Regions from separate parts of the Homo sapiens genome. Here region 1 is linked to region 2. The links come from fine-mapping of genetic effects on gene expression. A gene starts in region 2. The other region holds a variant in brackets. All regions are shown on one strand. Distances are between the middles of the regions.

The links. PIP is the estimated chance that this variant, and not a neighbour inherited with it, causes the effect. A credible set is the group of variants that fine-mapping cannot tell apart.
Region 1: its variant is the best candidate, but not a certain one, in a credible set for the expression of SLC30A9 in nucleus accumbens (GTEx, PIP 0.57).

What each region holds. Positions count from the first base shown.
Region 1 is chr4:42,035,587-42,038,503 of GRCh38, forward strand. All of the region lies in intron 7 of SLC30A9 (solute carrier family 30 member 9), which reads left to right. Among named protein-coding and RNA genes, the nearest start is that of SLC30A9, 47 kb to the left of the region's middle. The variant T/C (reference allele first, on the strand shown) is at 1,243.
Region 2 is chr4:41,989,212-41,992,128 of GRCh38, forward strand. It overlaps SLC30A9 (solute carrier family 30 member 9), which reads left to right and starts at 1,319. Exons shown (of 18, transcript NM_006345.4): 1 at 1,319-1,549. The coding sequence starts at 1,441. RefSeq lists enhancers at 991-1,070, 1,351-1,490 and a silencer at 1,200-1,419.

The DNA of each region.
Region 1 (2,917 bases), 46 kb after region 2:
TCCCGGGTTTGAGCAATTCTCCTGCCTCAGCCTCCCGAGCAGCTGGGACCACAGGCATGCCACCATGCCCAGTTAATTTTTGTGTTTTTAGTAGAGACAGAGTTTCACCATGTTGGCTAGGTGGGTCTTGAACTCCTGACCTCAGGTGATGCGCCTGCCTCGGCCTCCCAAAGTGTTGGGATTACAAGCGTGCCCGGCCTGATTTTCTTGAAATTTAAAACATTTGTACATAAGTTTTCTTTAAAGTCATAACCATGTTATGAACCTTAAGCATGTAGATATAGATGAGGAAGACTTTATTTTCTTAGGTTTTAGTGAGATTTATATCCGTCATACACACTCTTAATTTTCTTTAGCCTCTCTCTTTCTGCTCCTAACTCTGGTTCAACATTCAGACTGCCAACTCTGTGCTTGTATCCAAGAAGCTTAGCCCTTGGAGAAGAAAATTACACAGCCAGTGTGATTGTTCTTTCTTCCTTATATGACTATACAAAATCAATGGATACTCAATATTATTTGACAGTCTTACTAAACTTCCAGAGTATGTTCACCTTCCCACTCTTTGAAATAGCTATTGCATATCTTTTTCTTTCTTGCCAACAGCCTCACTCTTTACTCTTCAGCTGTTGACTTTGCTTCATATTTTATTGAAAAAATAGGTGTAATTTCATAAAAGTACCTCATCTTTTTCATCACCTCATCTTTTCATCACCAAATTTACTAACTCATCTACACATGTGACAAAATACTCTGCTTTCCTTCCTACTAGAAGGAAATTAATATTGGGACACATGTAGAAAGTTTGCCTCTACTGTTCTACCTCTTATTTTCTCCTGAACCTAATCCAATTGGGCTTTCAACCCCACCACCCCACTGAAATGACTTACCAAAGTCCCCAGCACCTTTAAGATGCCAAGCAGTCTGTGGCCAAGTTGACTTTCCATTTAAACTTGGCTGGGAGGAATCTCCTATCAAGAAGTTAATGTCATATTTGGATAAAAGGCTACCTATGCACATTTTCTTCTCTCTGGTGGCATTTGAGACATTGCACCCATTTTGCAAAGTTTAGACATTGGCAGTGATGATAATTTTAGCCAAATCTTATTTGATATGCTTTCCTTTTCCATTTATTATCTTCAAGACCTCTTAATTTCCATTTCCCCTTTGATCACTGCATTTCTGGCACCCCAGTACTGCCCTGAAGATGTGGACTCTCCTCTGGTAGAGCCTTCATATGTCTTA[T/C]GAGCCAGCATTTTCACTCTCATGCCTCAAGGGCTATTGCCATTGCCTCTTGTGCTGGGATAACTTAGGCTGGTGAGACCTGCCTCCTGGGAAGATTCACTCCTCGCCTTCACATCTGTTTCACATGGAGAATCATCCTCACCAGATTTTCTAATAGTAGCTGTTGACTTATGAAATCTTTGTTACTTCAGAAGATTAATACTGGTCAACTTTTGAATATTCCATGTTTTGAAATGATTTTTTTTTGCTATTACAACGTTTTTTTGCTGGGACATTAGGATAAAACTAGTATTTCATTTCCCTCTACTGTACCCCTATTCCCTTTAGGAATGGTTGTTCTCTCACTGAAGATGGTTGCTTTCCTTCTCTAAAACATAGGGCTAATCCTGTTTGCAAAAATTAAATGCCTTCTTTTTTTTTTTTTTTTTTTTTTTTTTTTTTTTTTGTTATTTCTGACCCAGACACTTGTTTTTCCAATATATTCTTATCTCATGAGAACTCCAATAATGAGATATATGAAATCACAGTGTTCTGGGTCTGCTCCTCTGGTATTTAATTTCTTATATAATAATTTCCCCTTTAATACCTTTCTACTTTCCCATGCCTTCCCTTCTATTTCTAATTCATGGGTTTCTTGATATAGTACTTCAGAGAATTGGAAGTACCTTTATCTCTGCTTAATATATTTAACTCCACAATAGTATCACCTTGAAATGCACCAATAATGCTTTGAACAATTTATGCTCCTTTTCCTGGTAGTTCTCTCTGAAATCTATCCAAATTTTCTGCACTTGTCCCAATATTAAAGAACCTTGTTTATTGTGAATGTTCTCAAAGATATATAAAAATAGAAAAATAGATATTGGCTATCCAGTTTCATTAATTTCTAACATTTTGCTGTCCTGGTCTTCAAAAAGGGGCAGTTCTCCAATTGCTCTGATTATGGAATTTTTTAATATTTTATTTTATTTTATTTTTGAGACAGAGTATTGCTGTGTTGCCCACGATCTCAGCTCACTGCAACCTCCGCCTCCCGGGTTCAAGAGATTCTCATGCCTCAGCCTCCTGAGTAGCTGGGATTACGGGCACCCACTACCACAGCCGGCTGATTTTTTTGTATTTTAGTAGAGACGGGGTTTTACCATGTTGTCCACACTGGTCTCAAACTCCTGAGCTCAAGCAGTCTGCCCATCTTGGCCTCCCAAAGTGCTAGGATTACAAGCGTGAGCCACTGCGCCCGACCTGATTATGGAATTTTTGAGTAGCTTTTACAGGAAGCTTCCCAAGCAGGTTGTGGATCCTGGCTCCTTGTGATCTCTTGTTTTTCTAGATTTTTATTCTCTTGTTAGAGTTCCTTGGACCTTATCATTATTTCTAGTTTCTACCAACACATCTTCCCGTTTTCTACAGCCTTCTTTATTAGAGTGGTTTGGGCCGAGTGAATCTTTTTCCTTATTTTTCTTATTATTTCTTATTCTGATCTTAAAGATCTCATTTCCTTTCCCTGTTTTGCCCCTCCCATGAGTTCCCAAACCTTTCTTCTAAAGAAATCTTATTTTTCACCGTAAGCAGCATTCTATTGTTCCCATAATAATTTCATTGAGTTTTTTCTCTATTCATCCAAATAATACAATATATTCTTATTTTAATAAAACATACATTCTGTTTGTTATCA
Region 2 (2,917 bases):
AATTATCCATAAAAGTTAATAGATGTTTGCATAGTTACCATAAAATAAGAGGTAAGCCTTTATGTATTTTTACTTCATAAAGTTGAATTTCTATTAAAATCTATTACAAGAAAGGGAAAGTAACTTTCCAGTAATATTCAGATTTTTTAGTAATATTGAGCCTACATTTATGGGACATCATTTTTTAATGTTTGTCCACTGAATATTTTAAGTTATGTTTGTCATAGGAAATTAAATTTGCTTACCATTCTTAACGATAATCTCTTTCCTCATTTGGTTATACTTATCTCAATTAGTATAAGAGACTTGTTGATTTTTTTAAAAATTAAGGACATACTAAATTTCCCCGAGATAGTTATTTTGCAGTAATATAGATAAGCGACTCAGATTAACTTTAAAACAAACCACCATACATTCCATTCAATTTATTTTTGCCAGGCATTGTTTTAGCGGCTTTATACAGCCATGTACAAAATAGACAAGATTCCAGCATCATGATGCTTATTTTCTATTCTAGGACACAAAATAGAAAAAAAAATCTCAAATAGTGATAAGCGTTTTGAAGAAAAGTATATAGGACAGCCGGGTAGAGAATGACCAGGACTACCATAGCTAGGGTGGTCAAGGAAGGCCTCTCTTGAGTTTGAGTTAAGAGCTGAATGAGCATGGCAGAGAGAAACAGTTAACGTGGATACTGTTCAGGTTTCTTTCTCCCTGGGACCAAAATGTTTCGAAGTCTGCATACCTCCGTTTACCCTAACTTGTCATGAACATAAAACCTCTTATATTGCAGGCAAAAATCTGAGGTTCACAGATTAGTAGGGCAAGTAGCTGATTCCGAAGTGTGTACTTGCCTTTATGATACTGGATACACACTGGTGTTAACAAGGAGAACGATGTACGTGGCAGACGTTCGGAGAGTACTGGACATGTTGGTTCTAATTTGGGTTTATCCTGGCAGGCTCTAGGTAGAGAGGCTCAGAAAACCTGCGTCCATCCTTCCCATCTTTCCTCCCATTTCCGAAACCACGGCCCCGGTTTCGAGTCCAGAAAAAAAGGAATAAGTAGAACTCCCAAAGGACAGCTTTCCTGGCTGAACAAGATGTAAACAGTTTACGTGATTTCCAACCAAGCGCAAAAGTACAGGTGCAAAAGAAGACGGCAGACACCAAACTTCCCCTGCAGCCACGCCCTCCCCACTTTGGGAGTCTGGGTCCCCGGGAAGGAAGGCCTCCCTATTGGTGCTCAACGTGTTACGTCACTTCCGCTACCTCCACGGCAGGCGTCGCTAAATGACGTTGCCGTTTCCGGGTCACCCAGGCAGCTTGTGGCGGCGAAGCCATCGGTGTTCGCTGATGTCCAGTCTATGGAGTCAGTTGGTACCGGTGGCGGCGCGGAGGCAGAAGGCGGTGTCCGAGTAGGGGCCTCTGCCCCACCAGGATGTTACCCGGCTTGGCCGCCGCCGCGGCCCACAGATGTAGCTGGTCCTCCCTGTGCCGGCTCCGTCTGCGATGCAGGGCGGCGGCCTGTAATCCCAGCGACCGCCAGGGTGAGTGTCCCGCGCTGGCCGCTGGCTCCGTAGAAGCCGAACTGGAGGGCCAGGCTGGGCTCGGCGCCTCGCCTGGGGCAATTCGCCCACTTGCCTTTCGCCAACCTCAGAACCTTCCTTTCTGGCCTCCGCCTTTCCAGTTCAGCCTGCGCAGCCCGCGGGGGTCCTGACAGGTCTCTGACTCTGATGCCTTCTGCAGCCCTAGCATGGCCCCCGCGGGAACTTGTGGGCACCTCGCGGGCCGGATTGCACCTCTGAAGCCTACCGCTTTGTACCAAACAAAATGTTACGTGCGCATCGCGGTGTCCCGCGGTTACTCACCTCCGCGGTTGGAAATTGCGGACTCCGCAAAGTTCCAGGGTCTTTGGAGCTTTCCAGCGCACCTTCATTTAGCACTTGGTTGAGATTTTCTTGGCCTTCTTTTTCTTACTCTCCCAACTTATTTTCTTAAATTTTCTAAAAGGAAGGAGGGGTGCTACTCACTACGGATCTTTTGGAAGAAGTACGAAAGTATCCGACAATCATTGAATGAACCCAGTTTGGGTCCGAAAAACAAAGAAACTCTTCAGTTCGGCTGAGCAGTCTTTTTGGTGAAAAGGTGGCAGTTGTAGTGGTAACCCAGAAAAAAAGGTGGTTGAAGAGAATTTTCGTCTCTCTCAACATTCTTTTCTGACTCAAATTTAAATGGTTTGAGAGTTTCCAAAATAACATTGAACTAATCAGGCTTACCTTCGTTTTTGCCGTAGCTTGACACACATTGCTTGACACTGAGAACTGATAGGATCTCTGAGGGAGAAGACAGAACTAAGTCCACCCTTAACCTAATCCCTCCATTCTTGGGATGCAGAGAGTATTTACCGAAACATTCATGTTCGAAGCCAGGTGTGGTGGTGCGCTCCTGTAGTCCAGCTACTCGGGAGACTGAGGCAGGCAGATCTTTTGAGCCCAATAGTTCTAGGCTAGCCTTGGCAACATAGTGAGCTGTCTGTAAAAACATAGGTTTGAAAAAACCTGTAACATGTTCGTGACCTCCTGAAAGAAGTCGGAAGTTGCAGTCATTCGAGATTTTATGTAATATAAGCTATAGTAACTATGCTGTGGATATAAATTAGAATATATTCGTATCTTTTATTTGCAATAAATGTAAAGCTGAATCTTAGAATTTCAAACGGATAAATTTTAACAGCACTATTCCCAGGGCTTTTTTGGTAGTGATAGAAAAGTGTAACTGTTGAGTTTTTCCATATTGGCAATATACTGCCAGGTTCCCTTATGGACAGAATGAATCATCGGCTGGGTGCAGTGGCTCATGCTGCTAATCCTCAGGAAGATTGTAAACCTTAGGACGCTGAGGTGGGTGGATCGCTT